Homo sapiens: one gene and its partner. The protein of the gene in region 1 purifies or fractionates together with the protein of each later gene. This does not show direct contact. Each region holds a gene or a part of one and is shown on either strand. Other genes may lie near its edges.

What was found.
Region 2: the proteins of ZNF200 (region 1) and ANXA13 purify together in Homo sapiens (affinity purification with mass spectrometry; one large-scale study listed by BioGRID and IntAct). This does not show direct contact.

Annotation. Positions count from the first base shown.
Region 1 is NC_000016.10:3,221,719-3,225,374, reverse strand, and holds the end of ZNF200 (zinc finger protein 200), read left to right. Parts: intron 1-761; coding exon 762-1,483; 3' UTR 1,484-3,050; downstream 3,051-3,656. UniProt on the Homo sapiens protein: Localizes protein arginine N-methyltransferase PRMT3 to the nucleus.
Region 2 is NC_000008.11:123,699,137-123,702,958, forward strand, and holds part of ANXA13 (annexin A13), read right to left. Parts: intron 3,601-3,822; coding exon 3,506-3,600; intron 1-3,505.

The DNA of each region.
Region 1 (3,656 bases):
CTTCCGGTTTCAAGTGATTCTCCTGCCTCAGCCTCCCTAGTAGCTGAGATTACAGGCATGTGCCACCATGCCCAGCTTATTTTGTATTTTTAGTAGAGACAGGGTTTCTCCACGATGGTCAGGCTGGTCTTGAACTCCCAGCCTTGGGTGATCTGCTCGCCTTGACCTCCCAAAGTGCTGGGATTACAGGTGTGAGCCACCACGCCTGGCCAATAATAAACTTTTGTATGAATATGCTGTGCCCTCTTTAATTTTGCTTATTGGAATTGTTTCAATTTTCTCATTGTAAGACATTATGATATTATTTAGTGCTATAATAGTGTGATAATATTTAATATAGTGAAAACCTACAAGTGGTTCGTCTTACTATTCAGTTACCAGACTCCTTCAAGATGATGAGTGGTTCCCTGTATAGATGTATAGTCTTCATCCCTAGTCCTTACCTGAGTGCTCTACAGAGTATAAGGTGAATATGAACTTGTCGAGTAATTAACACCTATGAAGAGAACAAACATTTGAAGTCTTTCAGTGAAATCCCACTCATTTTATTTCTTTAAAGTGTGCTTGCATTGTGGTAGATGGAAAGATTTATCAGTTATGTATCCCACCCTCAATAAGTATGGAAAAGGAGTGCGACGGCAGTATCCGCCACTCCCCAGATTGACGTTCAAGGTGGCTGTGGCATAAGAAACCTGACTTGTTTTTTCCTGCCTGGTGTTGTGATATCTCTCAGAAGTTGTTAAATTCTCTCTTTGTTTCAGCAGTCAATGGCAGTAATCCTGAAGGTGAAGATCCTGAGAGGGAACCTGTAGAAAATGAAGATTATAGAGAAAAGTCTTCAGATGATGATGAAATGGATTCTTCCTTGGTCTCTCAGCAGCCTCCCGATAACCAGGAAAAGGAACGACTAAATACATCCATTCCACAAAAAAGGAAAATGAGAAATCTGTTAGTTACCATTGAGAATGATACTCCTCTAGAGGAACTCTCAAAATATGTAGACATCAGTATTATTGCCCTTACTCGAAATCGGAGGACAAGGAGATGGTACACTTGTCCACTGTGTGGGAAACAGTTTAATGAAAGTTCTTACCTCATTTCCCACCAGAGGACCCACACTGGAGAAAAACCCTATGACTGTAATCACTGTGGGAAAAGCTTCAATCATAAAACAAACCTCAATAAACATGAGCGAATTCATACAGGAGAGAAACCTTATTCCTGTTCTCAGTGTGGAAAAAACTTCCGTCAGAATTCTCATCGGAGTCGTCATGAAGGAATCCATATAAGGGAGAAGATATTTAAGTGTCCAGAATGTGGGAAAACCTTCCCAAAGAATGAGGAGTTTGTGCTTCATCTGCAGAGTCATGAGGCTGAGAGACCATATGGTTGCAAAAAATGTGGGAGAAGATTTGGTCGGCTGTCAAACTGTACCCGGCATGAGAAAACCCACTCAGCCTGTAAGACCCGAAAGCAGAAGTAATACTGGGAACCCTTTCTGGGTCTGATGGTGCTGCCTCAACCTGAGAGCTTTCATAAGTAGTTCTGAATTCCCAAGCTGCCTAAAAAGGTATAAATGTGTAAAAATCTCATTATTGCCAAAATTGGATAAATGCCCATCTTAGCTAAAACCTCAAATTGCTAGAAAATTCACAGGGAAGAAAACATTTCAAGGGCTATACCTCAGCATCTAGGCTTTTTGGACTAAGGAGCTTTCCTTTTTGAAGTTATATGATAATGTACAGGTCACAGATCCCCTTTCCCAACACTTTGAAGATGAATCTGGAGTCTGCTTACTTGGAAGGCAAAGAGTGACTTGTGTCTATTGAAAGTATATCCGTTTTCCCCCCACATGGGGATTCATACTTGAGAAATAGTGCAAAGATGCTTATCTGGAACTGTGTTCTGGTGAAAGAACCAAATTACTGGCTTGTTAGCCAACAGCTTCTGATAGCAATTCATATAACCCTCTAAGAATACCTGTTTAAGTCTTGAGTGTTGAAAGGAATTGTTTACTTTGGAATATAGGAAAACAGTTGAATGTCAGACTCTCATTTGTATGTGATCTAAATTTGCAATCAATTTCAATAATATTTACAATTTGTGATAAAACTGACTTTTACAGATTCCTTTTCACAACATAATTTAGGTGTCTACTGTTCTTATTGTATTTTGTTCTGCTGTTGATCTCTCCAGCAGCCGTCTCATGCTTCTCCCTTGCTAAAAGAAGTTTGGATTACTCAGGCAGGGCCATCCAGCCCCACCACTAGAAAAGCTCTTCAGAATCTTGTCCCTCTGTTGAGCCCAGATCTCATGTGCTACGAAGGAAACCCCAAGACCCAGAGAGGAAGGGTCAACCTGGAGGCAGGAAAAAGTTGGCTTGGATCCATGTCTCATCAATAACCTTACCATATGCTTAGGTCCCCTCTATGCTGTCATCAGACCTTTGGCAATGGGGTGGTCACTACCTCACAAGGCAAAGTGTTGTATGATTAGAAATTACGTCTCCAGTGGTTAGCTCACATTGCCTCTCAAGAGACAGGTTTCCAGGTGTCTTCATTGTAGTGGGTATTAATTGTCTTCAGCCTCTTGATATCCATACCTTCCTGTCCTCTGCCTAGAAGCAAGGCCAGCGGTGCCTTTACGGACTGATCGTGTGGTGCGATTTAGGGATTCTTCAGTTTTGCTTGCTTTAGGTTTCCAAAAGTTATACATTGGTGTTTTGATTGGAATAAAGAAATCCTATAAGCTATTTGGGAAAAATTATAGTGTATGTTTCCCATCCAGAAACATGCCTTTCTATTTATTAGAGTATTATATTCCTGTGAAAATTTTTCTAATTTTCTTCACTTGTTTTACACAATTTTGTTATTGTAGTTTTTTCCATTATATTTTTATAGTTGATTATTGCTTTTACATGGGAAAGTTATTTTTAATTATATATTTGTATAGTCATCTCACTGTTGTTAATTTTCAATAGTTTGTTGGTTTAGTTCTGTTAACTTTTGGTAAAATGACACCATCTACAAAGAATAGTTTTTGTTTCTTGCCTTCTGCCTATTGGTCTTTTTTGTTTTGTTTGTTGTTATTAACATGTAATTCTGAGGTTTCTTGTTTTGGCACAAAGCATTCTGAAAGAAGGACATTCTATGATACAGTTCAGTCCTGAATCGTAATTTAAAAACAACAAATCCTCCACAACAGAGAAAGGCCACAGAAAAACTGTCTTTACCAACATTGTATTTCAGGCCAACAGGAAGTACCCTGTAAAGCCAGCAAAGCGAACAAAACAGGCTGCCCACAACGTTATTCGCTTATTTGAAAGTCTGACCAGTGCACTAGGACTGGGATCCTGAACTGTGTTTCCAGAGTCGGCAGGCTGTTACCATGTGCAGTGGACCTGCCTGTGCACCCAGAAAAGTAGCTGCCAGGAAGTGAGTGGTGAGAGAGAGTCTCCACTCACTCTTTGGTACCCCTGCCCAGAGTCGGGTATTTTATCAGTCCTCATGCAGCCATGGCACAGTACCCGAGACAGTTAATTTTTTCTTTGAGACTGGCTCTGTTGATAAGGCTGGAGTGGGGTGATCTTGGCTCGCTGCAACCTCCCGCCTGCTAGGCTCAAGCGATCTTCCTGCCTCAACCTCTTGAGTAGCTTT
Region 2 (3,822 bases), on another chromosome or scaffold:
ATGCAGGTATGTAGAAGGGGAAGTACATGGAATTCTTACTGGCATCTGTTTTTTTCTTTGTTTGAGACAGGGTGACTTTGTCACCCAGGCTGGAGTGCAGTGGTGCAATCATGGCTCACTGCAGCCTCGACCTCCTGGGCTCAGATGATCCTCCCATCTCAGCCTCCCAAGTAGCTGAGACTACAGGTACACACTGCCATGCTCGGCTAATTTTTAAATTTTTTTGTGTAGAGATGGGGTTTTGCCATGTTGTCCAGGCTAATCTCAAACTCCTAGGCTCAAGCGATCCTCCACCTCAGCCTCTCAAAGTGCTGGGATTATAGGCGTGAGCCACCATGACCCCAGCCTGCCATCTATTCTGACAAGCACCTGTCTTCCTCTTTTCTTTGAGCACCCTCTTTTCACAAGAAAACTAACTACCTTCTCCCTGTCTCCCTCTGACAATGTGGTTTAACAGGAGAAATGGTCAAGGATGGGCATCAGCCTACCTAGAGTAGTTAATGCCCTAACTTAAACCAAAGACCTTCACATAGAGCGACAGCCTGGGATGGCTCAGATTGGAGGCCCATAGACAAGCTGGCATTTCAAGGACACAAACTATAGCATAGGGTGGGCAGCTCCCCAGCAGTGTGGCATGGTGGCAAAGAACACAGCCACAGTACCTTTGTGACCTTGGAAATGTACTTAATCTCACCAACTGTCAGTTTTCAGCTCTAGAAAATGGAGACAGTGCTAGACTGACCTCACAGGGTTTTTGGGAGAATTAAATGTGACAATCCTTGTCAATACTGAGCATTACTGCCTGACATATTTTAAACGGTCAATAAATGCTTATCATTAATCTCCCATGCTGAAAAAAATTTTCTAAGAGGAGGCACATCAACTATTTTTCAAATGAAGCTCTGAGCTCTTGGCCTGGGAGAAAAACCCGGAATATTTTTGTCCAAAGCCCTGGGATCTGCAGTCCTACAAGGGGGCTGTTATATTATGCCTCCGCCCCACAGTGGCTGCTCCAGCCAACACTGCATCTTGTGAAGGCAGGTCTGTGGTCAGTACTCTATGGTGTGGAGTCATCTAAAAATTGGAAATATATTTTCAGGCCAGATGGGCATTATATAAGCTGCAGAGAAGAAAAATCCCAGCTTCCCACTCTTACAAGCCACAGGCATAAAAACAAATCCTTGTGTGCTTACATTCTGACTGGACAGAGTAGAAGGCTCGGGATAGCTCAGCTCTACTCCTGGTTTTCCTGCTGACTCTGTTACCACGGGGTGGTTATTCTCTTTGGAGGTCAACTGACACGGGGCTGAGATTGGATCATACCTAACATCTTCTAGCTTTGCGTTGTTGGGATTCTAGATTATCTGTTTGGCAGTCTCAGTTCTCTGAAACACAGCTGAGAACCAGAAAGTAAGCAAATGATTGGCAAATGAAGTATCACAAAGTTTTGTGCCAGAACATGCCCATTTAAGTTTTAACAGGGCCCCTAGGCTTTCAGTTTGAATCCATTTACTCTTCTTTAGACTAAAGACTAAAGATTAAGAAGCATTGTATCCGATTTTTCTTTCTTTCTTTCCTTCTTCCTCTCTTTCTTTCTCTCTCTCTTTCATTCTTTTGTTCTTTCTTTTTCTTTCCTTCCTTCCCTTCTCTCCCTTCCTCTCCACCTCCCTTTCTCTCTTTTTCTTTTCTTTTCTTTCTTTCCTTTCCACAGGGTCTCTCTCTGTCACCCAGGCTGGAGTGCAGTGGTGCAACTACGGCTCACTGAGGCCTCAACTTCTTGGGCTTAAGCAACCCTCCAGCCTCAGCCTCCTGAGTAGCAGGGACTACAGGCACACACCACCATGCCCAGCTAATTTTTTATTTTTGGTAGAGATGAAGGTCTCAACTGGTCTCAAACTCCTGGGCTCAAGTGATCCTCCTGCCTTGGCCTCCCAAAGTGTTGGGATTACAGGTGTGAGCCACCTTGCCTGGACTGACTTTTCATATTGGTAGGGTGAATGTGTCTTGGGAGGCTACTGGAGTTAGGGATGTTGACAGGGATAAAAATTCAGCTTCAGGCCAGGCACGGTGGCTCACACCTGTAATCCTGGCACTTTGGGCTGATGTGGGCAGATCACGAAGTCAGGAGTTTGAGACTAGCCTGACCAAAATTAAAATACAAAAATTTTACTAAAAACACAAAAATTAGCTGGGCATGGTGGCGCGTGCCTGTAATCCCAGCTACTCAGGAGGCTGAGGCAGGAGAATCGCTTGAACCCGGGAGGCAGAGGTTACAGTGAGCCAAGATTATGCCACTACACTCCAGCCTGGGCAACAGAGTGAGACTCCGTCTCAAAACAAAACAAAACAACAACAACAAAAAAAACCACACACACATTCAGCTTCATGCATTCAATTAAATGCAGTTGAACTGAAGATGCACTTATTTTCATCAAAAATTACATTGACGCACCTAATAGTAAGGAGAGAAGCAGAAAAAGCACAAAAGCACAGCCATTTGGGCCATTTAGTGTACAAGCAAATAGCTCTATTTATGGCACTGGGTCCTCCAGGAATGGATACTGTTCTTGAAGTCAGGAGACTTGGATGTGAGACTTGGATGTGAGTCCTGGTTCTCTTTTTTTTTTTTAGGTGTGTGATTTTGTAAAATGGAAACAATCATAGCTATCATAGCTTTTTCCTGTATTGGTACATGCTGGCATTATCCTGACTGATTCTCCCAGCAACCTGAGAAGGGAGCTAAGTTATCATCTTCTTTCTATCCATGAAAAGACCAAGGCCTGAAGCAATTGTTACCTGCTCAGTATCAAATAAATAGGAAAACCCATCTTCATCTTTCTATATATCTATTTATACCTACAGTGATTGAAATGGTAAAAGTTTGAAAAATATAAATGAGAATACAGCATAATAATTGATATTCATTTTGCATAATGATAATTCTAATGACATTAAGAAAAGTTTAAGTTGTGTTCATTACATATTAATAAAGAAATAAGAAAGCCTAATGCATACTTGAAGACTTCTCTCTATAAAATTATTTTCAACAATAAAAAGAATGAAAGAAAAGAAAGAAAATGTAAAGAAAAATAGGTGTTGATAGCTTAATAAAATGGAGAGTTTTTTTGGTAGTTTTCTGTAACAATCGCTTATGAAAAATTCCTGTATAAAGACCCACTTGTGGAAACTGATTTTCAAATTACTGATCTAGCTACATATGTACAGTTAGTCCCAATTAAGTGAAAAAAAGACTAGGGTCTTCATAGAAAAATGAAGTCAATTTAAGAAATGAGTTTAAGAGTATTGATTTTACAGGCTATTGAGTTAACAAAGCAATTTCAGTTTTTCTGAACTCCATTAATGCTTTTAAGTGGTTATTTCACTTTTCCTCCTGGGCTGACTCAATAAAGCTATAAAGATATTCTGCGTGGCCTGGGGACATGAGGAAGCCGAGACGGCTGAGGCCATGGCTGGGTGCAAGCTTGCTGACCACCCCTGGAATCACCTTGCCGTACGTTGCCTTGTACTTTTGCTTGATTTGTTGCCTCTCATCTGATGTCCTGCCCGATAAGATTTCAATGATGGCTGCTTCATTGGTCCCTAAAATACAGGAGAAACAAACAAAGCCACAGTGAATAAGAAACAAGGTGGAAGTTTATTTTAGTCCAGGGTGAGGAAGCCAGGACTCACAGCTTAAAGGTGGTTGGAGGTGTCTATGGAACCCAACGGACCCTTAGCTTTGATGCCTTGTGCTGAAAACTGTATTCTTTTCATTCACTTAGACAAATAGCCATTGAGGCCTCACAGCACATGGCACACAGT